Linked DNA regions of Homo sapiens: regions 2, 3, 4, 5 and 6 are each reported to be linked to region 1. Evidence: microRNA targets listed by miRTarBase, many of them from high-throughput screens and not tested one by one. Region 1 holds a microRNA gene; each other region holds the end of a gene's coding sequence.
The links. Region 1 holds the annotated microRNA hsa-miR-454-3p (UAGUGCAAUAUUGCUUAUAGGGU, at 1,853-1,875, opposite strand). A microRNA usually pairs through its seed, bases 2 to 8, with sites in the 3' UTR of a target mRNA and lowers its output. Matches are read on the target gene's strand: a 7mer-m8 pairs with bases 2 to 8, a 7mer-A1 pairs with bases 2 to 7 and ends in A, and an 8mer does both.

Region 2: miRTarBase lists ZNF431 as a target of hsa-miR-454-3p. Seed matches in the 3' UTR shown: 8mer at 757-764 and 7mer-m8 at 455-461.
Region 3: the mRNA of MED12 is a reported target of hsa-miR-454-3p. The part of its 3' UTR that is shown has no 7-base or 8-base seed match.
Region 4: miRTarBase lists CSPP1 as a target of hsa-miR-454-3p. The part of its 3' UTR that is shown has no 7-base or 8-base seed match.
Region 5: the mRNA of GRSF1 is a reported target of hsa-miR-454-3p. The part of its 3' UTR that is shown has no 7-base or 8-base seed match.
Region 6: the mRNA of ARHGAP12 is a reported target of hsa-miR-454-3p. Seed matches in the 3' UTR shown: 7mer-m8 at 4,285-4,291 and 7mer-A1 at 3,352-3,358.

The regions. Positions count from the first base shown.
Region 1 is chr17:59,135,935-59,140,934 of GRCh38, forward strand. MIR454 (microRNA 454) reads right to left here and starts at 1,938; the gene lies at 1,824-1,938. The region is part of intron 1 of SKA2 (spindle and kinetochore associated complex subunit 2); the gene reads right to left.
Region 2 is chr19:21,183,047-21,188,159 of GRCh38, reverse strand. It overlaps ZNF431 (zinc finger protein 431), which reads right to left. Exons shown (of 5, transcript NM_133473.4): 5 at 1-5,113. The coding sequence ends at 4,126. Among named protein-coding and RNA genes, the nearest start is that of ZNF431, 44 kb to the right of the region's middle.
Region 3 is chrX:71,141,291-71,146,403 of GRCh38, reverse strand. MED12 (mediator complex subunit 12) reads right to left here. Exons shown (of 45, transcript NM_005120.3): 43 at 5,034-5,113; 44 at 4,440-4,521; 45 at 3,954-4,229. The coding sequence ends at 4,186. It overlaps NLGN3 (neuroligin 3), which reads right to left and starts at 1,563. Exons shown (of 8, transcript NM_181303.2): 1 at 1,440-1,563. LOC124905197 (a long non-coding RNA gene) reads left to right here. Exons shown (of 4, transcript XR_007068262.1): 4 at 2,777-3,858. RefSeq lists a silencer at 492-747.
Region 4 is chr8:67,194,817-67,199,929 of GRCh38, forward strand. CSPP1 (centrosome and spindle pole associated protein 1) reads left to right here. Exons shown (of 31, transcript NM_001382391.1): 31 at 566-1,798. The coding sequence ends at 777. It overlaps ARFGEF1 (ARF guanine nucleotide exchange factor 1), which reads right to left. Exons shown (of 39, transcript NM_006421.5): 39 at 2,842-4,282. The coding sequence ends at 4,118. Among named protein-coding and RNA genes, the nearest start is that of CSPP1, 130 kb to the left of the region's middle.
Region 5 is chr4:70,819,660-70,824,659 of GRCh38, forward strand. GRSF1 (G-rich RNA sequence binding factor 1) reads right to left here. Exons shown (of 10, transcript NM_002092.4): 9 at 4,635-4,709; 10 at 1-1,202. The coding sequence ends at 4,660. Among named protein-coding and RNA genes, the nearest start is that of GRSF1, 18 kb to the right of the region's middle.
Region 6 is chr10:31,803,262-31,808,374 of GRCh38, forward strand. ARHGAP12 (Rho GTPase activating protein 12) reads right to left here. Exons shown (of 20, transcript NM_018287.7): 20 at 2,137-4,571. The coding sequence ends at 4,397. Among named protein-coding and RNA genes, the nearest start is that of MACORIS, 98 kb to the left of the region's middle.

The sequences.
Region 1 (5,000 bases):
ACTTAAAGAGCTGAGGCAGGAGGATTGCTTGAGCCCAGGAGTTCAAGGCTGCAGTGTATTATAATCTCTCCTGTGACTAGTCACTGCACTCCAGCCTGGGCAATATAGTGAGACCCCATCTCCAAAAGGAAGGGAGGAAGGAAGAAAAAAAAAACAGCTTGTGGGTAGAATGTTATCCTCTGTGGAAAATTGTATAGAACGTCTAATAACACACAGGGGCAGTACTGACTTATTATTATTATTTAGACCGAGTTTCGCTCTTGTCACCCAGGCTGGAGTGCAGTGGCGCGATCTCGGGGCTCACTGCAACCTCTACCTCCCAGGTTCAAGAGATTCTCCTGCCTCAGCCTCCCAAGTAGCTGGGATTACAGGCGCCTGCCACCATGCCTGGCTCATTTTTTGTATTTTTAGTAGAGACGGGGTATCACCATGTTGGGCAGGCTGGTCTCGAACTCCTGACCTCAGGTGATCCACCCACCTCGGCCTCCCAAAGTACTAGGATTACAGGTGTGAACCACTGTGCCTGGCCAGTACTGGCTTATTAGTGAAGTCAGTGGGCTAGGGAATAAGCAGGGGGCAAAAAGGATGCCAAAATGTTGAAAGATAGAAAAATAAGCTTTTTTTTTTTTGTTTGAGACGGAGTCTCACTCTGTTGCCAGGCTGGAGTGCAGTGGCACAATCTTGGCTGACTGCAACCTCCACTTCCCGGGTTCAAGCGATTCTCCTGCCTCATCCTCCCGAGCGGATGGGACTATAGGCGTGCACCACCATACCCAGCTAAGTTTTGTATTTTTAGTACAGACAGGGTTTCACCATGTTGGCCAGGCTCGTCTTGATCTCCTGACCTTGTGATCCGCCCTCCTCGGCCTCCAAAAATGCTGGGATTACAGGTGTGAGCTACCACGCCCAGCCGAAAAATCATCTTAAATGTCTGCTCTGAACCCTTCATTTTATAAATGAGAAAATAGCAAAGTAACTTGCCTCTAGTTCTATTTCCATTACTGTTTTCTTATGTAGTTAGACAAAGTTATAGATGATATTTAAGCCATTAAGAGTCACACATGTGGAAAAAATGTAAATTCTTTTTTTTCTTTTTGAGACAGGGTCTTGCTTTGTTGCCCAGGCGAGTGCAGTGGCACAAATCACAGCTCACTGCAGCCTCAACCTCCTGGACTCAAGAGATTTGATTCTCCTGCCTAAGCCTCCTGAGTAGCTGGGACTACAGACGTGCACTACCAAACCCAGCTAATTTTTGTATTTTTTTGTAGAGACAAGGTCTCGCTATGTTACCCAGGCTGGACTTGAACTCCTGAGCTCAAACAATCTTCCCGCCTTAGCCTCTCAAAGTGCTGGAACTACAGGTGTCAGCCACCACACCCATCCAAAAATGTACATTCTTCACCTAAAATTAAAGTTTTTTTATGTTTTAAATTAATATCACTAAAGTTACAAAGCTAGTCAACTAAAAATTCCCTCTGAACACAACATGGTAGTATGGTACAGAAAAATAAAAGAATTCGGATACATGGTAGAAATTCTAGTCCTAGTATCACTAACCAGCTATGTGTCCCTAGGTTAAGTCCCTCATTTCTTTGGGTCTCTCCTATCAAATGAGTTGGAATCTAAGATCCTTTTCAATACTAAAATTCCATTATTTCTTTATACTACAAATAAACCCATTTGTCAAAAAGAAAAGTTACCTTCTTCTAATAAATTAAAAATTTACATTTAAGCCTCAGATTTTAATGTTTATAGTGAAATCTAGTTCCTTGTTTTCTTCCTAAAGATGACTTTTGCTTGTTTCTGCTACATACTTTCTGCAGCCTGCCCATTGTTCTTTCCAAACACCAAAACCCTATAAGCAATATTGCACTACTCAGAACTATTTACACAGCAGAGACAATATTGATAGGGTTCTAGGATCTGGTGATAAACAGAATTTTTTTTAGTTAGATGGCAGAAATTCACTAAGCAATTATGATAATCTAAAACTCATTAGTGTCTGATAAATCGCGCAAATTTGATTCTGATAAACATCATTCACAGCCCTTTCAGTTACAAATCAGCCTCCTGGAAGCCTTGGAAATCAGTGAGGTTATTGTTTAACTTTTTAGGGGCAATGGAATATTTAAAATAAAACTAGTGATTTTTGTAAAGCCCAAGATATTCGTATTTCAGAAACCAGTTTTCTCTAAAATCAGTAATAAAAATAAAGGGGAAAAGTTTTATACTGATCTGAAAAGTGGTATATAAAATACAAAATTAGGTGAAAAAAGTCTATGGAAATCATCATGAAAGCACCCCAAGGGAAACCAGGTTACATTCTGCCAGTTAGATTTCTGATTTTTTCCTCCTATTTTGGAATATTTGCATAATAATTACTGGTTGAGCATCCCTAATCTGAAAATTCAAAATCTGAAATGGTCCAATGAATTTTGGATTTTGGAGCATTTCAGATTTTGGAATTTTGGATTAGGGATGCTCAACCAGTTGTTTTGTTTGTTTGTTATTTTTTGAGACAGCGTCTCACTCTGTTGCCTAGGCTGGAGGGCAGTGGCGCAATCTCAGCTCACTGCAACCTCTGCCTCCAGGCTCAAGCAATTCTCATGCCTCAGCCTCCCGACTAGCTGGGACTACAGGCACACGCCACAACGCCTAGTAAATTTTTTGTATTTTTGGTAGAGATGGGGTTTCACCATTTTGCCCAGACTAGTCTTGACCTCCCGAGCTCAAGTGATCTGCCCGCCTCGGCCTCCTGAAGTGCTGGGATTACAGGCATGAGCCACCGCGCCCAGCCTGTTCTAGTCTAGTTTTCAATATGACCAGTTTAAGGCTTTAAGTAAGTGGCACAAGGTATTCCATACTACTCAACTATTAGGCAGCAAGGAGAAAAGAATATATTGCGGTTGTCACAATATACTGTGTGGTCCTCAGTTTTAAAACACTTGCTTTTTACAAACAACCCCTAGATTCTCATTGCCACCGTATGCTCTCCTACAAAGGACCAGTGCCCTTAAAGCTCTAAACACATCCTCTTATGAGAGACCTTATCTCAACAGCATTAAATTACATAAAGTGAAAAAAAGTATTTCAGTCTCACCTATGGTGGGCTAGGCATAGAGAAGAGTTGGTAGACAGGTGTGTTCTGGACTTACTAAACAGGCTTAGAAATGCATTTTCCGGCTGGGCGCAGTGGCTCACGCCTGTAATCCCAGCACTTTGGGAGGCTGAGGCGGGCGGAGCACGAGGTCAGGAGATTGAGACCATCCTGGCTAACACGGTGAAACCCCGTCTCTACTAAAAATTCAAAAAATTAGCTGGGCATGGTGGTGGATGCCTATAGTTCCAGATACTCGGGAGGCTGGAGCAGGAGAATGGCATAAACCTGGGAGGCAGAGGTTGCAGAGAGCCGAGATGGCGCCACTGCACTCCAGCCTGGGCAACAGAGCAAGACTCCGTCTCAAAAAAAAAAAAAAAAAAAAAAGAAATGCATTTTCCATAGAAACATTTTAAGGGAGAATTAAGTATCTTAATGGAACTAGTTTGGCTATAATCAAAAAACCTACTTTTATTTTTATTTTTAAATTTTTTTTGTTTTTGAGATGAGTGCTCACTATGTTGCCCAGGCTAGTCTCGAAATCCTGAGCTCACGTAATCTGCCCGCCTTGGCCTCCCAAAGTGCTAGGATTACAGGTGTCAGCCACTGCACCCGGCCAGAATCTACTTTTTGTACATTTTCTTCTCTTCAATGTACATTTAGAAACACCTTTATCTACTCTCCTTTTACTTTGTTCATGGCTTTGGTTTACCATCTACTGTATTATATTTTAATCTATGTTTACATGGTAATGTCGCCACATGGTTTCAAACATCTTCCTGGCAAGAGATCGCTTTTTTGTATCCTTAGTTTTTAATATACAGCCTAATGTGCAGTGACAAAAGGGAATAGATGAAAGAACAAACATTCATTCATTTGAAAGAACAAACCACCTGGGAACCCAACTACCCTTTAAAACACGTTTTAAGGGAAATATTTCAAGTTCCCAGCAAGCTAAGGACCACTTATATCATGTCTCCACAATCAAAATTGGTTTTTGCCTTTTTCTGCTGGAGAAAGTATTGACTATTACCCATTCTCTCTTCCAAACAGAACAAATGCATGACTATGCTTGTCCAAAACAGATAAGCAGTAACATGCCCTAACACCAGGTCACAGACATGTTATTTCAGGCAATTGGCAACCAGAGGGGATAAAAGTGAGCAAGGGCTTCAGGTTCATCAGTTCCCAATCTGCAAGCTTTTTTTTTTTTTTGAGATGAAGTCTCGCTCTTGTCCCCCAGGCTGAAGTGCAATGGCACGATCTCAGCTCACTGGGTTCAAGCCTCCTGGGTTCAAGCGATTCTCCTGCCTCAGCCTCCCGAGTAGCTGGGATTACAGACACCTGCCACCATGCCTGGCTAATTTTTGTATTTTTAGTAGAGACGGGGTTTCACCATGTTGGCCAGGCTGGTCTCGAACTCCTGACCTCAGGTGATCCGCCTGCCTCAGCCTCCCAAAGTGCTGGGATTACAGGTGTGAGCCACTGCGCCCGGCCCAATCTGCAGGCTTTTATGGAACAATTGCTAGGATATATACATAAGCCCCTGCCTCTAAAAGGCTAGTTTTATTTGTACTATTTATTTTTTTATTTTTTTGAGATGGAGTCTTGCTCAGTTGCCCAGGCTGGTGTGTAGGGGTGCAATCTCGGCTCACTGCAAGCTCTGCCTCCCGGGTTCACGCCATTCTCCTGCCTCAGCCTCCCTAGTAGCTGGGACTACAGGTGCCCACCACCACACCCGCCTAATTTTTTTTTTTTTTTTTGGTATTCTTTAGTAGAGACAGGGTTTCACCGTATTAGCTAGGATGACCTCAATCTCCTGACCTTGTGATCCACCCGCCTCAGCATCCCAAAGTGCTGGGATTACAGGCATGAGCCACCGCGCCTGGCCTAAAAGGCTAGT
Region 2 (5,113 bases), not on the chromosome of region 1:
CGGCCTTCCGAGTAGCTGGGATTACAGGCGTGCGTCACCACGCGTGGCTAAATTTGTATTTTTAGTAGACACAGGGTTTCACCATGTTGGTCAGGCTGGTCTCAAACTCCTGACCTCAAGTGATCCACCCTCCTTGGCCTATCTCAGTGCTGGGATTACAGGCGTGAGCCACACCTGGCTGCCTTTTAACTGTTCTGATAAGCAAACTCTACAGTTAAAACCAATTTTTGTGTGCACTAAAAATACCAACTTCCTCATCAAAATCTACAAAGTACCATGTGAAATGAAATGGCATGAAGACAACAGTAAGAAAACTGTAGCTATAACTCAGAAAAAGAATAGCTGTGATGCATACATAGTTGGAAAATGCATAAGACAAATCTGAAGAGAAGTAGAAAATAAAAGAATTTCTCTTTTTTTTCAGATGGAGTTTCCCTCTTGTCGCCCAGACTGGAGTGCAATGGTGCAATCTCGCCACACTGCAACCTCCACCTGTCGTGTTCAAGCGATTCTCCTGCCTCAGTCTCCCGAGTAGCTGGGATTACAGGCATGCGCCACCACACCGGGCTAATTTTGTATTTTTTAGTAGAGATGGAGTTTCTCCATGTTGGTCACCTGGTCTCAAACTCCCGACCTCAAGTGATTCGCCCACCTTGGCCTCCCAAAGTGCTGGGATTACAGGCGTGAGCCACCACGCCCAGCTCTTTTTTTTTTTTTTTTTTTTTTATATGGAGTCTCGCTCTGTCGCCCAGGCTGTAGTGCAACGGCACAATCTTGGCTTACTCCAATCTTCACCTCCGGGTTCAAGCAATTCTCCTGACTCAGCCTCCCGAGTGGGATTACAGGCACCCACCACCATGCCTGGCTATTTTTGTAGTTTTAGTAGAGACTGGGTTTCACCATATTCATCAGGCTGGTCTCAAACTCCTGACCTCAGGTGATTCATCTGCCTCTGCCAGAATTTCTCTTTAAATTCAACAAGATTCAGTTTTACAGTCTGGAAAAAAAATGTCCTCTCTATATGAACAATCAATCTTCACCATTGATATTTTTCATCTTTGACTTGAAGTTACAAACTAACTTCAGCAGGAATATTTATGAATTATTATGGATAATCTATTACACAGTGAAAACTGTAATATATGTTTGCTACATTTATATATAAAAACATCCTCATGACTAATGAAGCCTCCCTAGTACTTAGCTGAACAAATTGACTCAATAAATATGCTTATGTCAATTATAAAAAGTGAAAGGAACAAATCACTAAAGAAAACCTATATATTGTTCTCCTCTTAAAAGAACAAAATGGAGTGCTCTAACTAAATAAAATGTAACTTAATACACTACTTTTGGAATTACATCTAAAGATTATTTTGTGTGCACTAAATTTCATAAAAATTCTTATAATCGCAGACCAGCTCACATAATGAATACTTCATAAAATATAAAACAAAAAAAATGTAAGAAACAAAAAAAGTATGGGTCTAGCATGAGTACCAGGCAAGTATATACAGAGAATTTGCTTGGGAAGATTCAGAACTCTAAGTCATAGACTGTACAGTAATAAATTCAATACAAACCAAAAAGTATACATTTGCTTTCAGCATTTTTTAGGTTTTTAGTTTTATAGTAGTCACCATATTAAAATGATTTTTGTTCCCGTATCATTCTTTCCTTCTGAAAATATGTACAAACTCATACTCACACACACATACTTAACTCCATAATTTTCTTACACCTAAGATTTGTCTTTAGACTAACATGTATTTAACTCTATATGAATCAAAACTAAAAGTCTGTATATGTTTGCAGGCAGACAGGCCACATGTTCAAAGAAAAATATATAGAAAATTTGAAAATATATTTTACTTTTTGAGATGGAGTCTCGCTCTGTTGCCCAGGCTGGAGTGCAGTGGGGTGATCTTGGCTCATTGCAACCTCCACCTCCCAGGTTCAAGCGATTCTCCTGCCTCAGCCTCCTGAGTAGCTGGGATTACAGGCACATGCCACCACGCCTGGCTAATTTTTGTATTTTTAGTAGAGACGGGATTTCTCCATATTGGCCATGCTGGTCTCGAACTGCTGACCTCAAGATCCACTCCCTCGCTCAGCCTGTCAAAGTGCTGGGATTACAGACGTGAGCCACCACACCTGGCATGAGAAAATATTTATTAAGAATTTAGAAATGAATTTCATTTATACTCGTATATAATTTTTATTATGACGATAAAAATAACACTGTGGTAAATAAAAATTTAATTGTACATTTAAAAATTTTTTTTTAAAGTGTAGAATTGGATTGTTTGTAAAACAAAGGAGAAATGCTACAGATGATGGATGCCTTACTTAACCCTGCTACTATTATATATTGTATTCTCCTATTAAAATATGCTACAGGCTGGGCGTGGTGGCTCAAGCCTGTAATCCCAGCACTTTGGGAGGCTGAGGCGGGCGGATCACATGAGGTCAGGAGTTCAAGACCAGCTTGGCCAATATGGTGAAACCCCATCTCTACTAGAAATACACAAATTAGCTGGGCATGGTGGCTGGCACCTGTTATCCCAGCTACTTGGGATGCTGAGGCAGAAGAGTTGCTTGAAACCAGAAGGCAGAGGTTGTAGTGAGCTGAGATCATGCCAATGCACTCCAGCCTGGGCGAAAGAGTGAAACTCAGTCTCAAAAAACAAACGAACAAACAAACAAAAGAATCTCTCTCTTTGATGTAGCAACAATTAACCCCATGCTTTCACATGTGAATCCAATAGGAATGAAGAAACAACAGGAAATAATTTCAGAGTTGAATGATGACATTATTCAATTTTCAAAAAATCTGTAATATTTTTCAAGAAATAAAGTATACTTTGAATGTAATTATAACTCTGCAAAAAACCTTCTGATCCTCTTAAAGTTCTATACAAATAACTTTTCTACCAACTTTAGTTTCAGATTTTCTATACTTAGCACTCTGATTTAGTATATCTGAAGTGTCAGTACCTTATATATTTCTACCATAAATTCTCTGATATTTGCATAGACTTAATTATGGATTAAATATTTTACTTTTACTGCATCTGGAAAAAATATATTCTAGTATAACTGTTGATTTCTAAGCTGTAGTTTTTGAAAAATTGTTTTTCCAAATTTATTATATTTGCACAATTTTTCAATATAAATTCCCTGATGTTGAACAAAGTTTGATCAACTGCTTCAGAGTTTTCCTCTAGAAGAAAATGTCTACAAAAAGATCTGTGATACAAGTAAAGGCACTACAACCCTTTTTATATTTGTGATGTTCAACTTCAAAATAAATACTCTTCACTAAAAAAGCTTATATTTTCTGAAAGATCTTTTGACAGTAATTGCACTTATAATGCTTTTATTAAGCAGGAACTCTCTGTGTTGAGTAAAATGTGAGCAGATAATGATGGCTTTTTCACAGTCTTTATATTTGTATAATTTATCTCAAGTATAAATGCTTTCCTAGCAATAAAGTGTGAGCATTAAGTTTTGCCATATTGTTCACACATGTAGGCGTTTTCTCCAGTATGAATTATCTTACCTACAATGAAGTGTGACAACCATTTAAAGGCTTTATCTCACTCTTCAGATTTCTAGGATTTCTCACCAGTATAATTACTTTTATGGTTAGAAAAGTTTGAGGCGTTGTCAAAAGTAGTCACATCTTTCTGATTTGTAGAGTTTCTCTCCAGTATAAATTATCTTATGTCTGTTAAGAATTGAGGGCTTCTTAAAGGCTTTGCCATGTTTTTCACACTTGTGGGGTTTTTGTACAGTATAAATTTTTTTTGAGACGGAGTCTCACTCTGTTGCCAAACTGGAGTGCAGTGGTACAATCTTGGCTCACTGCAACTTCCACCTCCCAGGTTCAAGTGATTATCCTGCCTAAGCCTCCCGAGTAGATGGGAATACAGGCACGTGCCACCACACCCAGATAATTTTTGTATTTTTAGTAGAGACAGGGTTTCACCATGTTGGCCAGGATGGTCTCGATCTCTTGACCTTGTGATCCACCCACCTCAGCCTCCCAAAATGCTGGGAGCCATTTTGCATAAGCCACCGCACCCGGCCAATATTTAATGCTTAGTAAGAGTTGAGGACTGCTTAAAGGCTTTCCCACATTCTTGACATTTGTAGAGTTTCTCTCCAGTATGAATTATTTTGTTTAATAAGGTTTGAGGACTGGTTAAATGTATTGTCACATTCTTCACAGTTGTAGGGTTTCTGTCTAGTATGAATTTTCCTATGTTTAGTAAGAGTTGAGGATTGGTTAAAGGCTTTACCACATTCTTCACATTTGTAAGATTTCTCTCCTGTATGAATTATCTTATGTTTAGTAAGATTTGAGGATCGGTTAAAAGCTTTGCCACATTCTTCACATTTGTAGGGTTTCTCTCCAGTGTGAATTCTCTTATGTGTAGTAAGGATTGATGACTGGCTAAAAGCTTTGCCACATTCTTCACATTTGTAAGGTTTCTCTCCAGTATGAATTATCTTATGTGCAGTAAGTTGTGGGGACCGGTTAAAAGCTTTGCCACATTCTTCACATTTGTAGGGTTTCTCTCCAGTATGAATCATCTTATGTGTAGTAAGGTTTGAGGACTCATTAAAGGCTTTGCCACACACTTCACATTTGTAGGGTTTCTCTCCAGTATGAATTCTTTTATGTTTAGTAAGGGTTGAGGACCAATTAAAGCCTTTGCCACATTCTTCACATTTGTAAGATTTTTCTCCAGTATGAATTATCTTATGTTTAGTAAGGTATGAGAATCGATTAAAAGCTTTGTCACATTCCTCACATTTGTAGGGTTTCTCTCCAGCATGAATGAACTTATGTGTACTAAGGGTTGAAGACTGGTTAAAAGCTTTGCCACATTCTTCACATTTGTAGGGCTTCTCTCCAGTATGAATTATCTTATGTGTAGTAAGGTGTGAGGACCGGTTGAAGGCTTTGCCACATTCTTCACATCTATATGGTTTCTCCCCAGTATGAATTATCTTATGTGTAGTAAGGGTTGAGGACTGCTTAAAAGCTTTGCCACATTCTTCACATTTGAAGGGTTTCTCTCCAGTATGAATTCTCTTGTGTCTA
Region 3 (5,113 bases), not on the chromosome of region 1:
CCCGCATGCTCCCGCACACACACGCACACACACGCACACCCACGCCACATGCACATTTAGTTTTCCTCCATTTCTCCCGCCTTCCCAGATTGCAGGCCTGCTCCTTTAAGAACTGGCTGAAGGGGTGGGGGAGGGAGATTGGGAACGCCCGGCAATCAGCCACCACGAGAGGGGAATGAGAATGTGTGTGTGTGTGTGTGTGTGTGTGTGTGTGTGTGTGTGTGTGTGTGTCTGTGTGTGTGTGTGTGTGAGAGAGAGAGAGAGAGAGAGAGAGAGAGAAGAAAAAGGAAGAGGAGGGAGGGCGGGTAAAGTGGCTAAAGGGGTGGGGGCTCAGAGGAAATGAGGAAATGGGGAGCAAAGTATGGGGGGTAAGATCCCAGACACTGCCCAGAATGCACCCGGGTGTGGGGAGGAGGGGAAGGGGAAGGAAGGGGTAGGAGTAGGGAGGTGGGGCAGGAGGGAGTGGGTGGGTGTGTGTATTGGGGGGGGCATAGTCCGCAGCTGAGTTCACACAATCCCCCCATTCACCGTCTCCATGGCAACTCCAGGGCACAGACCGCTCATTCACACAGCTTCCCCACCAGCAACCCCCCCACATTAACCCCCTCGGTGCTGCCCCCAACCCACAAATTCCATTAACCCTTTCGGGATGCCCTCCTCTCCAGTAACCCTTCGGCGCCAAATGCCAAATTCTCCTTTGAGTCAATTCCCTGCAGCCCCTCCCCCGTGAACACCTAGACAATCGGACCGACCCCCAAACGCCCTCTGTACCCTAGGACCCACTGTGAATCCCCAAGGCCAAGATCTCCATCCTGGTCCAACTTGCAATTTGGGAGAAGACAAGGGGAGGCAGCAATGCCGGGGATGAGAATGGCATCTCGGGGTACTTTTGGGGCTGCAGCGGTGCTGGGCGCGGGGCATTGTGCAGGAATGGACCAATATTGAGAACTGCAGTATTGGGGGCTACGAGGGCTTGGAATGGATTGGGGGATGGAGTTGCACTGGAATGGGGGAGGATAGGATAAAGGCCTCCATTGGGTGGGGGGGCTGCAGATAGTGGGGGAGGGAGCCTGGCTATGAGATGCTATGATGGAAGGGGGATGGGGCTGCACTGCAGGGGAGGGGGGACTGGCAATGTGCAATCCCGGGATGGGGCTGGGGGCCCTCAATAGGGGTATTTTGATGAGCATGCGGGATGGGCTGTGGAAATAGAGGGACCATGGGCGGGAGGATGTTAGGGATGCGGGATTTAGGGAGGAGGTAGAAGGGAGAACAGAAGCGGGGGAGGATCGGGGGTCAGGGGTACCGATGGAGAACATGGGGTTGAGAGGGATGGGGGCCACTGGCTGGGGAGTGGAGGAGCCTGGGATTGGGAGGGGTTAGGATGGGGGCAAGGTATGGGCAGCTAGAGGATGAGAGACCGGGGCAGGCGGCCTCACCTGTTCCCCGGGCTGCTGCAAGCGACTGAACCGGGCCACGGACCACCCATATCGCCTCCAGGCCAAGGGCTCCGCACCCGAATCCCCGAGATCAGCTCTCCGGCAGCCTGGCTGCTGTGCCCGCGCACCGAGGGGGCGCGCTGCGCGTTCCCGGACACGGGGGGGCGCGGTCCCTGCCATTAACTCCTTTTGTGCCAGAGATGGCTCAAGTCCTGGGGCATGGCCCAATTCCCCCCATGCTCAGGCACGTTCCGCTCCCTCTCTCTCACGCGGGCGCGCACACACACCTCAGATTGCAAGCTATCAGACAGGTGATCTTCCAGGGCAGCTAGCCCAAACTTTACCCGCAAAGCTTGAGACTTTGTCCCAAAGGGAGAAACTGAGGCACTGCCTGCAGGAACCCTCAGTCATACTACACAAAAACACACCTCCACCTCAATCAGCATCCCTTATTTCTCAGCGCCAGCACTACCCAAGCAGCAACCAGTGGGGCCACTCTGCTCTCATCCTGTCACTCTCCCAAAGGTCAATGCTGTTCCCTTCTGCTGCTTCTGCTGGGGCATGTCAGACTGTCAGCATGCCAGTTGTCTGACCATTTCAGTCTCTCCCCTCCAGGTTCAGTGTCTTTGTGTCTTGTGTTTTTGTATGTGGCGCACCTGCCATTTGTTTAGCAACCCCCAAGCCCCTCTGAATGTCCCTCATCCCAGCCAAGCCTGTACTCCTGTGGCTCCTCAGAATGTTTATGTCAGGATAGAATAAGTGAGAAGAAAGCTTCAGTCATGTTTGCCTTTACACTGTTGGGGAGTTCCATTCCTTGTGCACGCAACTCTTAAACTTGGTAAGTCCCATATAAGCAAGGGCTTCGTGGGCCTCAAAGAGGGCTATTTTATTTTTTATAACTTGGGTACTGATTGGTGCTCCTGGTTTTGCCAGCACACTAGACACTTCCCAGTAATAGGGTGCAACTATGGCTTGCATGTTATCCTTAAGTTGTCAAATCATCCTGTACCACCCACTCACAAGGCTGAGGCTGATCCTCTTCCAGCCCTAGCTAGGCAGGGCAGAAGACTCCAAGACTCCATTGTAGTAAACCAGTTGGCTCTCCTGGACAGCCTTGGATCTAGAACTCAAACTGGAAAGCAAGAGGGCGAGAATGGCCCTGCCGCAGCTCCAAATGTGACTCTGGGGCAACAGTTTTGAGTTTTCTCTACTGTAAAATGGGAGCGAGCAAGTCATCCTGGGTAACTGCCAAGGTGGGTCACGTGAGAACAGGCAGTTCTGGCAGTAGGGCAGAGAGAGAAAGGGTGCTTATTTTTACTGGTCTCTCTTCCTCCTAGAACCAAACGGTCCTTCCACGACCTATTCTATGATGGCACATGCCAATGGAGGGCAATTTTTCATCCAGGAATGTGACTCTCAGGGAAGTTCTCTGTCCTATGAAAGGTATGCCACTTGGTGCATGATGGGGACCACACAAGATGACAAGAAGGGTAGGCAGTGTCTGTCATCTCCACCCTCCCCAGCTTGTTTGAGGCCCAACATCTGGGGTGTTGTGGAAGAAGAATCAGGTTCTATTGATGTTTCCCCTGGCCTAATGGCCCCTCCTCAATCCCAGCGGTATATCCCCCATGGAGGAAAGCTGTAAAGAAGCTCCAACATTTAGTTGAGAATGTTCATTGCCCCTTCTTAAAAGACTAAGGGGACGGGTGTGGTGGCTCATGCCTGTAATCCCAGCACTTTGGGAGGCCAAGGCGGGCAGATCACCTGCGGTCAGGAGTTCGAGACCAGCCTGGCCAACATGGTGAAACCCCGTCTCTACTAAAAATACAAAAATTAGCCAGGCCTGGTGGCATATGCCTGTAATCCCAGCTACTCGAGAGGCTCTGAGGCAGGATAATCACTTGAACCCAGGAGGTGGAGGTTGCAGTGAGCTGAGACTGTGCCACTGAACTCTAGCCTGGGCGACAAGAGCAAAACTCCATCTCAAAAATAAATAAAAAGAGACTAAGGGCCTATACCTTAATGTGTTGCCATGTTGAAGAAGAGGAAGAGAGGGTAGCAATCCAATTAGAATTAAGAAATTTAGGCCGGGCGCGGTGGCTCACGCTTGTAGTCCCAGCACTTTGGGAGGCTGAGGCAGGTAGATCATGAGGTCAGGAGTTCGAGACAAGCCTGGCCAACATGGTGGAACCCTGTCTCTACCAAAAAAAACACAAAAATTAGCCGGGCGTGATGGCACATAACTGTAATCCCAGCTGCTCGGGAGGCTGAGGGAGGAGAATCGCTGGAACCCGGGAGGCAGAGGTTGCAGTGAGCCGAGATCGCGCCACTGCACTCCAGCCTGGGCGACAGAGCAAGACTCCGTCTCAAAAAAAAAGAAAAAAAGAAATTTTAGAGTGTAAGGTAAACAGGGGAGATGATCAGAATAGAATGAAGACTCTGACTTGTTGGTCCAACCCCCTGCATTCTCCCAAGAGACCACCCTTCCCAGACATGCAGAACTCGCACACTCCCTTTGCAAAGAAGCTCTGTGTATTGGGTGCAACAGCTCTGGGGTCTCTATATAAATAATATACAAAACCCAACAGCTCAATGCCTCACATTAACAAAAATACTAAAAACTTATTAAAAATGGAGCCTGAGGGGAGGGCCCCAACCACTACTGGTGCTAGCCCAGGAATGGGATTGGGAATTAAGAGGAAAGGGTGGGGCCACATCCAGTGCACAAGCAGTTCCTCCAGGTGGCTCAGTAGCGTCCAAATATGTTGGTACTGGGCTGTGGCTGGGTATCTGTGAAAAACCAGAGATTATCAGGGATGGAAGACCAGGCAGGGGTGTGGGTATGCACGAGGAAAGCTGTTCAGGTATCGAGGGAAGGGGATGGAATGGAATGCCTCCTCTCATAACCTGGGCCTGAAGCTATCGTTTCAGCTACTTTGGCCCACCCCGCCCCCTAAATTTATTCCATGGGGTTCTCCTTGGGAAGGCAGGCAGGCTTACTAGAGAGCTGTTGTTGAAGTTGCCGGACCAAAGCTGCTGTCTGTTGCTGCTGCTGGGTCTGCTGAAGCCCCTGGCGCTGGAACTGGGTGGAAATAGGAAGTGGAAGACTGAAGTCGAACTTTTCTCCTTCTTCAACCTCCTTTCCCAATCCGTTTTTTTTTTTGAGATGGAGTCTCGCTCTGTCCCCCAGGCTGGAGTGCAGTGGCATGATCTTGGCTCACTGCAACCTCTGCCTCCCAAGTTCAAGCAATTCTCTGCCTCAGCCTCTTGAGTAGCTGAGATAACAGGCACCTGCCACCATGCCCGGCTTATTTATTATTATTATTTTTTGTATTTTTAGTAGAGACGGGGTTTCACCATCTTGGCCAGGCTGGTCTTGAACTCCTGACCTCAAGTGATCCACCTGCCTTGGCCTCCCAAAGTGCTGGGATTACAGGCGTGAGCCACTGCGCCTGGCCTCCCAATCCATTTTTAGGGTGCCATGCCCTGCCTCCCACCTCTACCCTATTCCATACTGTCCCCAACCCAGTTCACTGGCTGCGTGCCCAACCTGGGCAGCTGTCCCTGAGCCTGGGGCTGTAGTCCAGCAGCTACCTGGGGCTGGGACTGGGGCTGGGGTTGGGGAGGAGCCGCCTGTTGCTGCTGTTGCTGCTGGTGTTGCTGTTGTTGCTGTT
Region 4 (5,113 bases), not on the chromosome of region 1:
AAGCAAGAGCTACCTCTTCATTGACTGGACACGGCCTTGTTAGATTAGGTGTTTTAAGAATGGAAGTAATCTCATGCCAACTAGTGTTTTCCCAAAATAACTTAATAATTTCCTTATAGCAGTGTTGTAGGTTGAAGAGTATTCCCCAAACCTTGCTTTAAAAAAAATAAAAAGAAAAAAGAAAGAAATTTTATGTGTAGCCATTAGGCTTCTCCTGAGGTAACAGTTACAAAATAAGACTACCTACATTCCTCCTGTTGACTTTGTTTTATGGAGAGGTGCCTTTGATATGCTTAGAATCCCTCTGGTTGCTAGTGCCATGGAGTCAGCTTACTCAGTTGATCATTTTTTGTTTTACAAAATTGGCCTTTGTGGGCCCACTCTCCTCCCTCTAAAATAGGGTGGGGTGGGGTGAGTCTAACCAAAACAAACAAACAGTAGAGTTCAGGATATGAGACTGTGGGGAAATGCTGAGTTGTAATGAGTTGGACTACAAGAGACCTGCGCTTATGTCTCCTGCCTGCCACCTGTGTTACCTGAGCCACGTGTCCCTTGCCTCCTGTAGATGATGAGAGTTCACTGGTTGACCCTGATGACATCATGAAACACATAGGGGATGACGGATCAAACTCTGTAGCAACTGAGCCCTGGCTCCGCCCTGGCACTTCAGAAACGCTGAAACGTTTCATGGCAGAGCAGCTGAACCAGGAGCAGCAGCAGATTCCTGGAAAACCAGGCACTTTCACTTGGCAGGGCCTGTCGACTGCACATGGTTAAAATAAACCTGTACTGGACCCAGTAGTGCCTTTTAAGGTGAAAGGAATGGTAAATCTGTACCTTTAATATGTCCTACTTTTGGCCCCTACCTGAAAGTTACTTTTTTTCCATCATCTGTATATAAAATTATTTTTATCATGATGTATATTATGTACATAAATAAAAGGCCATGATTATTGATTTATATAATAGAATTGTATAGATTATTTTTGCACAGTTTTGTCATAAATTAGGGTGGTAATGAACTGGATTGAACTACTATATGTGCATTATATTGAATTCTGCTTGTCATTAAGATAAGGTGAATAAGTGTCTTAAACGTCCTGTAAAACCGGACTCCCCTTTGTTACATGCACATTTTCCATTGTTACCTCGATGCAAAAGAATTCATTTAGTAGGTACATCTATTGTAGCTGTGATTATTCCAGTTTCTGTGTGATGCAATCAAATGTCCTATTAATTAATTATTATTTCATGTCATTTGTAGCTACTGATACAGCAGAAATGAAGGGAACTGTAATTACTTGTATTTTTGTAAGCCATACGTTAAATGTTTGTTACATCATCTTTCTGCTTCTATTTTTATGCCAATGAAGGCATTTGTCTTGTTACTAATTACATGATGTAACTACTTCTTGATATAAATAAATTTTTATTTTAATTACTAAAATCTTTTTAACTACTATGGAGCTTTCTAGACTAGTTTTCTAGAGGTTGAATAGAGGTGGGGACACCCGGGAGTCAAGGACAGAGAGACTGGAGTCTTCTTCTTCCACCATGGAACCTTGGATAAGTGAGTCCATGTGAGTTTTCTAATCACTCAGTAAGTGATACTTCTAAAAAAGGAAAGAGTCATTCAAATAATTGTGACATTCTGACTCAGATTAGAATCTCAGAACCATGACAGCTGAGAACATCCCCAGGCACTGCTTCTCTCTCTAATAATACTTCCTCTGATGTAATTAACGGTTGGTAGACAATATCAGACAAATTTGCCACAATTAAATTACTGATATTTTGAGTTTTGGCTACTTGTAAATTTTTATTTGATTTTCTAATCGGACCATTGTTTGTTTGCTTTACTCGTAAAAATTTGTTCTGTTGTCATCTGAAAGTAAGAAGAAAGCCTCTGACTCTTCTAGGGGAAGAGTCCTGATACTACAACATTAAAATAATCAACTGCCAGGTTGTGTGGAGCACTTACCCTCACACGGCAAGGTCACAGTGGCTCGCAGTTCTAGCATCCAGCTGGGCTTGAACACAGCTAGAGCTGTCTTGGGTGTAACAAATACAGCACACTTACTTACAAATGCATTGTTCAGTAACTGTTCATTATCTAAGAGAGGTGTGAAAGCAAAGACTGAATACTTTTCCTCTTTAACACAACCATGTTAGATGATATTGACACGTTCCCTTTTTGTTTAATGCCATGTACCACACAACTTCAACTGACTCCTCGAACACACAATATTGCAAACTGTGCTGAAGAGAACTTTAGCTCTTTTCAGCATTCAAGTAGTGTAGCCTGATGCTAGGTTATTAATATGCAAAAAATATTAAAAGATTTTTGGGCTGGATATGGTGGCTCATGCCTATAATCCCAGCACTTTGTGAGGCTGAGTTGGGAGGATCACTTCAGGTCCAAGAGTTTGAGACCAGCCTGGGCAATATAGTGAGATCCCATCTCTAAAAAAAAAAAATTTTTTTTTAATTAGGCAAGTGTAGTGGTGTGTGCCTACAGTCCTCACTACTGGGGAGGGTGGAGTGTGAGAATCGTGAGCCCAGTTTGAGGCTACAGTGAGCTGTGCTCATACCACTGCACTCCAGCCTGGACAACAGAGTGAGATCCGGTCTCTAAAAGATAAATAAAAATTTTAAAAATTGCCTTAAAAATAAGTATCCTATGGTAAGTACAGTGTAAGGAGGATCTAATGCTAGAAGCTGGAAAGAAAATACCAGAACCAAACAATATTGAATTTGTAGTTCTGGCTGAAAATGTCTTTTCCATAGTTGTTCAGCCTTAATAGACCAGAATCAATGAAACATGGGGGTGGGTTATACAGGTTTTGATTGCACTGATGAAATAATTCAAAAACTTTATTGACCTATAACCTGATTAGAATATGCCAGATGGGAATCAATATTGTACAGAAAGTTGTACAGAATTTTTTACATAGAAAACTTTACATCTGTACCATATACATTTTGTCCATCTGAAAAAATTTTCTACATCCACTGTTAATACGGAATGCTTGACAATCTTGTCTTTTAACCATCAGAGCACAATTCACAGTATGAATACATTTCCAGTAAATCTAACCTCCGCAAACCATGCCAGATTTGTTATTTTAATATATTCAACGTTAAATTCTGTACATAGAGTAAAATCTACATCAAGCCCCACCACCCAAAAGAAAAGAAAATGACAGCAATCTGGATTCATTTTGCAGTGATTCAAGTTTTGGTCCATAAAGGATCATTCTATTTTAATGGCTCATCTTTAAAAGTCCTAAGAGAAATATGTGACAGGTAGTTACTGTCAGTAGGGATATTTTCTACCTTTTTTTCCCTATTGTTGAAGTGTCGGCCACAACAGCTTCTGGGCATGTTACAGCCTCAAAATCACCACCTACCAAAAAGGGCAAAACTAAAAATCCCTATAAAATAAAAAAGAAAGTTCCACCCAAATGTTTAGTGCATTTGACAAAATATTATGGGTATTTAGCAAATGAATAAGAAAATAAAGAAAACAGTGCAGGAAGAACTATATAATGTTTTAAGATTTTTATATTACAGACCTGCATCTCTGTACATTTTTCACAGGATGATTACCAGTATCTCAGATAGCCTGAGTGTGCAAAAATCTTCAGAATAAGAATACCATAGTTGCTAAATATCTTTTACCATGAACAATAATTTCTTCTTCTCTCCCCACTCCCCAATTATAAACATTTTATCCTTCAAAATACAGCTCTCCTGAGTTGTACTTCTTGTAGAAGTTCAATCTTTACATCTATAGTTCTTTGGGTAAGTTTCACTTCCACACCTGCCAAAAACGTGGGGCTTTTCCTGCCGTGGAAGACAGGGAAGGACCCGTGAGCATGAGCTGACACTGTTTAAACAGGCTTTCTGCTCAACATGAGGCCAATATAACACACAAAATCCACCAGCACTAAAAGGGACTGGAGTGTTGCAAGTTTGAGTAAGACTTCTAAGCATCTTTACCAGTAACTCAGACACTGCAATCCAGAGAAATCATTTTTCAGGTAGGAAACCTCAGCTCCAGCGTCCTTTTAAAGAGCAGAGGGATGTAAATGCCAACAAAAATATTAAGTTCCCATCATTGCTTGTTTATTCCAAGTTCCTGTTCAGGTGGTTGTGATATCTGAAAAACTACTCCGATTCGCAGAAAAAATCTTCTAAGAACAGCACGAAGTTCAGGAATCAAGTCAAATTGCATAATTTCACATAAGAGAGGGTAGTAGAATGATGCATGAGCTTTAAACTGCAGGGAAAATGAATTTCTCCATTAGTAGTGATTGCAAACTGCAGAGCCTTAAACTGCCTAGAGTCAAACTACTCTGGGGCTCCATCACAGGAGCCAGGAAAGCAGGGTCCACAGCAGGCAGTGACTCTGGTTTGTGGAACTGAGAGACAGAAGTGTTAGAAAAACTCACTTCATACAAACACTATTCACTTACATATCCTTATTTTGAAAAACATTTGTCTGTATATCTTTGACAAACTTTTAGTAATTTAGCACTGTTTTTCCTGGGTAATAAGCAGCAGGCAAGTGAGTACAAACTAGAGTTGAGATTTTATAAGCTATGGGTTACTGAAATTTTATCTTTTGTTACATAAAAATTTTAAGTTTTGGGGAAAATTCTACCCAACACTGCAATATAAAATCTAAACAGTTCTTCAGGCAAAGCTACATACGTTTCACATGTACAGTTCAATTGCTATACTTTGGCTGTATCTTCACAGTAGTTCCTTCATCTCTGAACTCTAGTCTGCAGCCTCCTTTCCTACCCCTTCTGTACCCCTCCAGATCCAGGGAAGCAGTGAGACATATTATGACCAAAAAAAAAAAAGCCAGCTGTGGAGTAACAGAGGCTGGGATTTAGAGCCCTTGGCCTTTCAAGTAGTGGGCCACATCACTAGGCATTTTTAAACCTATTCTAGGGTCACAGCAAAGCAGCCTGTATGTGTGAGCTGTAAGTTGCTATTTTTTTTTCTAAGAATAGAGTGTACATTTTTGAAAACCTTAAATATGCACTTATATTTACAGTCATATATGTGTATTTTATCTTTATTTCTACTGGTTTAAAATTCT
Region 5 (5,000 bases), not on the chromosome of region 1:
ACCTGGGCAAATTTAATTTTAAGAACTAGAACTGCATCTCCTGGTGGCAGTCGTCACCCTGAGAACAGGAACAAGGCAAAGAAAGCATACAGGATTTTGATTCTCCTACACAGGTGCACATAAAGTTAGTTTATTAATGACTATATTTTGAAGCCAGCCATTTTGTCCAATATTTAAATAACAAGCTGTTTAATATTAAAGCAGAAAGTACTGCCACATTGTGACAGAAGTACAGCTTTATCCATAAACCCTTCACACAATTATACATTAAATGCTATTTTTATTTAAGCAAGGCACCCCTACTTGTTCTAAAATATGGGATGTACTACTCCATTTAAAAAGCAAATGAGGAGACTGATTTTTTTCCTATCTAGAGCTGGTTTAAATTCAAGTGAAGCCATTAATTTTCTTACCAGTCTGGACTGTTCTGACATGTCACTTCACAGTTTTGAGACTAACAAACACCCTTAGGTCTACCCCAAACCAAAAAAAGCCAGGGAGGGACAGTTTAGACAACTTTTAAGTTAAGACTAGAATGCCCCCTTAAGTAGATAGGCACCACCGTTATACGCCTTTAGCACAAGGCTTAGAAAGGCAAAACATTTCTAAAGACATAAAACCGCCAAATTGTCATTTACACTAAGCTGTGGTATTTTTTGTTTTGATTTTTAAAAATTCCTATCTCTAAGTAATCAAATACAGCAAAATTTAAAACTATTCTGCCAAACCATACCAGTTCAAAGGTCTGAAACCGTTCTTTGCTTTGGTGAATGTTTGGTTAAAATAAATCACTGTTTCACTCCATGAGAAGTTTTACATCAGAGCACTCAATTCACAGGCAAAAAAAAAAAGTTACTTTTTAAATGAAACCGTTTAAAGAACACTGCTGAATAAAAATATGTGGTCTTTACAATGAGTAACATATCATCTATGAAAACAAACCATTTAATCATATAAAACAAAGACCATATTTTTAAATCAGATCCTGGACAGTTTAAACAAAAATTTTAATTTGTGGTTTATTTCATAATCCCAAACTGGATCTTTCATTTCTTCTTCTAAACAGTCCACTATGAAACTTTTCTTAGAAGCAATTAACCCAAAACACCAAAATCATTTCCCTAGCAGTTGCTGCTAATAAACTGGAACTGTATATCCCAAGTCCAAGAAAGATGTGCAAATGAAATGCTTCTTGCTTCACCCTAAAAATAAAACAAAAAATATTGTACATTTACTCAAGATGAAAAAGGATGGCACACATTCCCATACCATTTAAAATTGCAAATTCAAATTTTTCTCCTTTCTAATTTAGTGCAAGCTATCTGATAAACCGAGTTAAAGTGAGGAAAACTAGTCAGGCATTAGTGTTTACAGGCTGGTACAAAAAACTGAGTTTCAGAATATATTTTAAATAGATTTTAGCTATTATAAATATTTAACACCAAAGAATTGTGGGACTTCATATCCAAAAATAGCAACAGAAGAGGCCAGGCACGGTGGCTCACGCCTGTAATCCCAGCACTTTGGGAGGTTGAGGCGGGCAGATCAGCTGAGGTCAGGAGTTCGAGACCAACCCGGCCAACATAAAGAAACCCCGTCTCCACAAAAATAAAAAATTAGCCGGGTGTGGTGGCGCATGCCTGTAATCCCAGCTACTGGGGAGGCTGAGGCAGGAGAATCACTTGAACCCAGGAGGCAGAGGTTGCAGTGAGCTGAGACTGTGCCATTGCACTCCAACCTGGGCAACGAGAGAAACTCCGTCTCAAAAAATAAATAAATAAAAATAAAATACAAAACTTAGCCGGGCATGGTGGCATACGCCTGTAGCCCCAGCTACTTCATAGACTGAGGCAGGAGAATCGCTTGAACCCGGGGGGCGGAGGTTGCAGTAAGCGGAGATCACACCACTGCACTCCAGCCTGGGCGACAGAGAGAGACTCCGTCTCCCAAAAAAAAAAAAAAAGCAATAGAATAGGATATAGTAATAGAATGAATGTCCGTGTTTTTTTGTTCCTTTTTTTTTTTTTTTTTTGAGACAGAGTTTCGTTCTGTCATCCAGGCTGGTGGAGTGCAGTGGCACCATCTCAGTCACTGCAACCTCCGCCTCCCAGATTCATGTGATTCTCCTGCCTCAGCCTTCCCAGTAGCTGGAACTACAGACATGCACCACCACACCCAGCTAATTTTTGTATTTTTAGGAGAGACAGGGTTTCGCCATTTTGGCCAGGCTGGTCTCAAACTCCTGACCTCAGGTGATCTGCCTGCCTCAGCCTCCTGAAGTAATGGGATTACTGGAGTAACCCACCATGCCTGGCCCCATGTGTTTTCAAGAAATCATTACAGGTAAGTGTCTCAAAAGAATGAGCCATTACCTGTAGAAAAGTGACTGCAATACAACAGTAATACTTACAATACCTTATGGGAAAAAAAAAAGACACCATATATTTAATCGAGGCAAGGAACATCAAGATGTATTAAGCAAATCTCACGGGTAGGTTAACACTATAAAATTATGTACTTCCTAAGGCAAAAAAAAAATGCCATTTTAGGAAAAGGAAACAGTGGCACATTAACTGTGTTTATGGATGATACACTCTGGTTTCACATGGTATCCTTTTAAAAATACCTTAAAACAGAAAATGGCTGGGCGTGGTGGCTCACACCTGTAATCCCAGCACTTTGGGAGGCTGAGGCTAGCGGATCACTGGATGTCGGGAGTTTGAGACCAGCCTGGCCAACATGGTGAAACCCCGTCTCTACTAAATATACAAAAATTAGCTGGATGTGGTAGAGAATGCCTGTAATCCTAGCTACTTGGGAGGCTGAGGCAGAAGAATCACTTGAACCCGGGAGGCAGGGGTTGCAGTGAGCTGAGATTGTGCCACTGCACTTCACCCTGGGCAAAAAGAGTGAGATTTCATATCAAAAAAAAAAAAAAAAAAAAAACAAAAGTAACCTGAGAAAATGGAAAACGTGTTTAAATTTAAGTGGGGAAAAAAAGCTAATGCAAGTCACATATCCAGTCTATTACGATTTATAGCTACTAAAGGTGGCTATTTTTTGGCAAACAGCATGATGTTGGAAATTATGCATAAAAATTCTATATGGAGATAATGCTCAAAGCTACCATATAAATCATAAGGAATTATGGCTGGGAGCAGTGGCTCACTCCTGTAATCCCAGCACTTTGGGAAGCCAAGGCAGGTAAATCACTTGAGGCCAGGAGTTAGTTCAAGATGAGCCTGGCCAACATGGTGAAACCTCATCTCTACTAAAAATACAAAAAAATTAGCCAGGCATTGTGGCGGGCACCTGCAGTCCCAGCTACTCGGGAGACTGAGGCAGGAGAATCACTTGAACCCAGGAGGCGGAGTTTGCAGTGAGCCCAGACTGCATCACTGCAATCTAGTCTGCTCAACAAAGCAAGACTCTGTCTCAAAAAAAATAAAAAGTAGGCCGGACACAGTGGCTCACGCCTGTAATCCCAGCACTTTGGGAGGCCGAGGCAGGCGGATCACCTGAGGTCAGGAGTTCAAGACCAGCCATGACCAACATGGAGAAACCCCGTCTCTACTAAAAATACAAAAATTAGCTGGGCGTGGTGGTGCATGCCTGTAATCCCAGCTACTTGGGAGGCTGAGGCAGGAGAATCTCTTGAACCCGGGAGGTGGAAGTTGCAGTGAGTGGAGATCGAGCCATTGCACTCCAGCCTGGGCAACAAGAGTGAAACTCCATCTCACAAAAAATAAATAAATAAATAAAATAAAATTTAAAAAAAATGAAAAAATATCATAATTAATTCTATTTCCCAGCAGAATTTTCTTTTTTTTTTTTTGCCCCCCACATCTGAGAAGCCAGAGCGAGAATTTTCATTCCTTATATTGACACTTCAATTATCATTAGTTTGATCTTTATTAAAAAGGAATGGTGCCAGGCGGGGTGGCTCACTCTTGTAATTCCAACACTTTGGGAGGCAAAGGCAGCAGGATCACTTAAGGCCAGAAGTTCAAGGCCAGCCTGGGCAACATAGTGAGACCCCATCTCTACAAAAAATTAAAAAATTAGGTAGGCATGGTAGTACACACCTGTAGTCCCAGCTACTTGGGAGGCTGAAGTGAGAGAATCACCTGAGCCCAGAAGGTTGAAGCTGCAGTGAGCTATGATCGCACCACTGCTAGCCTGGGCAACAGAGCAAGACCTAGTCCCTAAAAAAATTTGAAAAATAAAAAGAGAATGGTTTCTACCATATTACAAATTAGTGAGTGAATGATTATTAGTTTATCAATAGCAAATAATTTCCACAGTTGTATCTCTCTCTTTTTTTTTTTTTTTTTTGAGTCTCGCTCTGTTGCCCAGGCTGGAGTGCAGTGGCACAATCTCAGCTCACTGCAACCGCTGCCTCCCGGGTTCAAGTGATTCTCCCGCTTCAGCCTCCTGAGTAGCTGGAATTACAGGCACCCACCATCATGCTCGGTTAATTTTTGTATTTTTAGTAGAGACAGGGTTTCACCATGTTGGCCAGGCTGGCTTGAACTCCTGACCTCAGGTGGTCCGCCCACCTTGGCCTCCCAAAGTACTGGGATTACAGGTGTGAGCCACTGCACCCAGCCCACAGTATTACCTCTTAAATTTACCTTATTATCTGGAGCCCCTAGAGTCTTATTTTCCTTTTGGACATGAATTCAGGAACAGTTCAATATACCTATGATCTGAGGATAATGAGAAAGATTAGTTTTAAAAAGTTGAAAAGGTAGAAAAATATTACAGCCATTTTTCTCACAGTTCAGACAGCAACTCAAACCCTTTGCCCTTTCCTTTCCCTAATTAAAAACAAAATTTAGGCCAGACACGGTGGCTCACGCCTATTGTAATCCCAGTACTTTGGGAAGCCGAAGTGGGAGGATCACCTGAGGTAAGGAGTTCAAGCCAGCCTGGCCAATGTAGCGAAACCCCATCTCTACTAAAAATACAAAAATTAGCCAGTGTGGTGGTGGGTGCCT
Region 6 (5,113 bases), not on the chromosome of region 1:
TGTTTGCATATACCAATACATTTCTTAGAACATATCCTCATCACTAACAGTCACATGACTGTATAAACAATTTCTCAAAATGCCGAGGAGGAAAAGGTGGCCTTGAAGTCTGTGCTGAATTTTCACTGGTTACTCCACCATGACTTGACAGTGGTTTTGATTTCTACCTCTGCAAATGTTCTGTTTAGGAAGACCTCTACAGCATCATTTGTCACTCTCATGTCACTATGGATTTCATCAATATAAATTTATGACAGTGTTACAAGTTTCTAAGCTACTTGCAGTATGAGCCACAACTATCATAAGTACTTGAAAGATCTGGCTACCAGCATTAATAATTAAAAATCTTTACCAAAGACTGCTTTTCTGAAAACCTTAAAAGAGAGGAAATAAAATAAAGGGAGAAGAGGGTCGATGAGAAAAAACATGTATTGTAAATACGTATTGTAGTAATTTGTTAAACAGTTACCTTGTTGTACAAGTGCTCTGTTTATGAGAGCACCATAAAAGTGGTTTCTTTCTTTCGTTTCCCGCCCCCCGCCCCCCCGGCCCTGTGGGAGAAGGGAAGCAATGAAGGAAATGAAAGAGTTCATTTAAGTGCTATATTCACATAAGGCTAATTTGTAAAAGCTCAATCCAGCTGAATATACTTGCAGCCACCACTGGACCACAAAACTTCAGTTGAGCAGACTAATTGAGATTCTTCAGGAGAACTCCCTTGTCTTTGGTAGTTACAGATGTCTCATTAGGCATTCTGTACCTCCCCCTTCTCTAGAATACTAAGTCTGACTCTGCCCGGCCTGAGGACACAGCCTGTGAATTCCCAACAGATTCTAATACACCATCATTGTAAGACAGTTGATTTTGTTTTGCACCCATTTGATTTTTGTTTTTGTTTGTCTCAAACTAAAGTTGCAATTAATAGTACTATGTTAGCTGCACTGGAATACTGTTTAAAAAAAATAACAACAAAAACTATGCTCCGCCTCCAAGACTGTAACATGCAGGCTAAAGGCCCTATTAAACACTTTCTGTAGTCTTACCCAGAGAATTGCTTTCTATAAAAGAAGATCATTAGAGCTCATGGCTGGAGTTCAGGGAGAATAGTAAACTCCATAAAATCTTATTTTCTACCCATTTTCAATTCTCTATAGAGATGCAATATTTGAACATTTGACTTTTATTAGACTAGTGAGAGCGTGGCGCCCACTTGACTATTTTTATTTTCTTCTTTACTAAAAAGATGTGTTGTGGACTCCTCTGTGTATTTCTTTAAAAATGCCTAAAGATCTTTGAGGAATTCGAGTCATGGGAAACTACATGTTTAAGTATTTAATTAGAAGCCTCTCCCATGAGCTGGAAAAAATCTCTTGGCACAATTATGGAATAACTATTTTCCCTTCACTGCTGTCTTTTTTTTTTTTTTTTGAGACGGAGTCTCACAGTTACCCAGGCTGCAGTGCAGTGGTGCGATCTCGGCTGACTGCAACCTCCACCTCCTGGGTTCAAGTGATTCTCCTGACTCAGCCTCCGAGTAGCTGGGATTACAGGCGCCTGCCACCATGCCCGGCTAATTTTTTTGAATTTTTAGTAGAGACAGGGTTTCACCATGTTGGCCAGCCTGGTCTCGAACCCTTGACCTCAAATGATTCACCTGCCTTGGCCTCCCAAAGTGCTGGGATTACAGGCGTGAGCCACTGCGCCCAGCCCACTGCTATCTTAATGTTCAATATTGTGGGCTTGCAAAGAAGCGTGGAATGAAACTGAAATAGTAAAAAGGTCTCCATGTATCTGCATTATTGGTGAGTTTTCACTTGTATGTAAGCAACGGCGTGCACAAACACTTAGCACACACACACGTTTGTGTGTATGTTATAAACGCACAACCCATCTACCACTAAGTCCAAAGTTTCACCAAATTATTTCATTTGTGCTTTTCACATAAAAACAATTTATAGATTTGTCTCTATCTAAAATATAAACATCATTTTTTGGAGATTATTTAATAATTAACGTACTTTCTCCAGAGTAAAGGGTAAAATTTCTTATTTCTATAAAATTTAAATAAGTGTTTTTCTTCTAATTGGAATGTGACAATGTATTTAAATATACTTTCTTTTCTAAATCTGCAACTACCTTTTTCAATGACATTATGAAGGAAGACTTACTAACAAATAAAATTCCACTGATAATTTATTTCAGCTTTTAATATATTTTCTACTATAAAACCAAGCTGTCAAGACAGGAAAATATTACTAGCTTTGTTATTACAAAACAAGTGAGAATTTTTAATTCACAAAGGATGAAAACGCAAGACATTAATCTCACTGTACATACAATATTACAATAAACTGATTAGCTGTAGACTAATAAAACATTTAAGACTTCACACACACACACACACACACACACACACACACACACGTACCTTGAAACAAGAAACACAGGACAATTTTAATCTTTGATATATGTTCATGAACACCAAGAACAAGAACATCACTGATTTGAGTCTAATTGTTTTCCTGGTATACAATCACTAAATAAGCAAGATCTAAAGCATATTGTATTATTAAGGACATCTTTAGGCAAATATAAACATTCTGATTTAGGGCTTTTTCTCCCCACCCGAAACAATCTGCTTTAGCTATCAAGTAGTTTGGTTTGTTATCAATTTAACACGCTCACAACAACAAATACAGACTTTCTACCACAAAATTCAGGTGAGAGGTTTTTAGACAGATCATACAAAAAAATACTTGTTCCCAAGGAAGGCAATCTGTAAATTATAAATGCAACCCTAAGAAAAAAAAATCCTGGTCACAAATCACTCGCTTTCAAATATTGATGGAGAAATAAAAAGTGTACGTTGTGGGTGGAGAAATGTTGGCATGGAAGAGAGGAGAAAAGGTATGAAATGAGGAAAGTGTTATTTGCCACAGGAAATATTGGATTCAGTTGATTTTTAAAAATGAGGTATAACAGTATGCCAGTAAATGAAAAAACAAAAAAATTAGAAACCAAAATGCACATTTCCAATGGAAAAATCTCTAAACCTCTTATAGTTTTATTAGACATTTCATGTACAGAAGTTAATCTAGAAAAATACATTTTAAAAATCTTCAACAGACCATGCTCCCTGTAACAAAACCTTCCAAACCCTGTGTTTTATTATACAAAGCAATCTACATTAGTAGGTAAAAAGAAATTCTCAAATTTAGCAATGTCATTTTCCATCCAACATCCATCTAATTTACAGATGGGTTTCCACTATTCATACTGGAATTAGAATTCTGTAATAAATTTTTTCTAATGTTTTCTGTACATATTAAATAACCCAAAAGGTTCCTCTTGTAGTGCATGTGCCATTTAGCAAGTCTATTCAGTATTTTTCCAGTACCATTCTCATTACAGTGATTTGCCTGTAAATGTAGTTAATATCTAAAAGTGCACACAGTTAACTTTCCCAAATAACGGACTATTTCTGGAGGAAACCTAATATTCACAGAAAAGATTACCAATAACAATGATTAGAAATGTAGGGTTAGAATGTACTCTGAGACTATACAACACAATTATATACACAAGCTAAAGGACATTAAGTCTTTAGCCTATATTTACATAAAATAATGTGTGTTTCCACAGGGTCATACCAATAACTCAGTATGGTACTAGATATAATTAGGATTGTTAGCTACAATTCAGTATAGCAAGACAGCCCTAAAATGCCCTGAACTGACTTCCGCTAACTAAAACTCCAGTATATCACAGTGTTTTAAGTAATATTAGTGTGCTGCCCAAACAAGCAACTAAGATATCCAGTAAGGATGCTGTGTAACACAGTAAAAGACAGCAAGCCTTCATCAAGGGGTTATTTTGGGGTTATAATGAATTTTGGCACTTAAGACTGCCACTGCATGCAGAAACCCCGAAAAAGAAATACACAGGTTTCAAAATGGATATACTTCATTTTGTTTAAAATGCCCAAGAGCCTTTGCAACATAACTGAAAGTATTGTTCTATCAAGTCATGAATCTTGAGAAGAAAGTACATTATCCAATTTCAGGGAAAAAAAATACAGTTTTCTTACCAAATTATCCAGTGTATATGACTGGTTAGAATTTTAAGTTTTGATTTTTACTGAAATTCAGAGTATGAAATGCAAACATTCAGGATAAAATGAATTCATAATTACACGCAGTTATATCAACTTGCAACAAAGCAGCAAATATGAGGGCCTAACACACATCTCGACTCTCCCCTTCCCTTCTGATCCCTCAAAAAAAAAGTGCAAAATCAAAGAGTCACTGCTTGGTCCAAAAAATAAAATACATTGTGTATAAACATTTGAAATCTGATGGAATCCAGCTTCTATTCCACAGGTTGTCTTCAGTAAGAATCAACGTCCGAAGATGGAACTCAGTTCCAGAAGAATTAATTCTACAATCTGATTCTGGTACACAGTATGAACTGCTATATTACCAGTCTCTTTTTCTGGTTTTAATAGAGTGGGACCAAAAACAATTGCTATACTCTGATAGGTCATTCGATTTTTCTCTCCATTTTCTATAACTCTGAAGGGAAAAAAAGAAGTTGTTAAAAGAGAAAATAAGAGAGAGGGAAAATTCTTCAAATGGTATTATAAACCTAACAGTTTGCATTTTAAAAAGAGAAGTAATACTTATTTTCCTAAGGTGATGCATAAACTATTTAACCAAGTAGAATTCTGTCTAAATGCCATGTGAAGCTTTCTTTTTGATAAACACAGCTGAAAGATACAATTAAGCATACTCTAACAAACTTAAAATGTGTGATATTTTAGCTTAGTTTTTAAAATAGAACATTTAAGTATGAGTTACAATTCAGGTAACAGTGACTGCTCCATTAAGTTGATGGGAAAAAAATCTCATTAGGGTGTGGAGATTAAACTTTCCATTTTACTCATTTTATGTAATTTCTTTAAAAAAAAAAAACTCTCTCTAGCTGGGATTTTTTGTTTTAGTATTCTAGTGTACTTTCTATCAGATGAAAGAACTTGGTTATTAAAGTGGCTATGTAGTAACCTAGAACCATGACGGTAACTTAATACACCTCAATTAATATCCAATCTCATCTT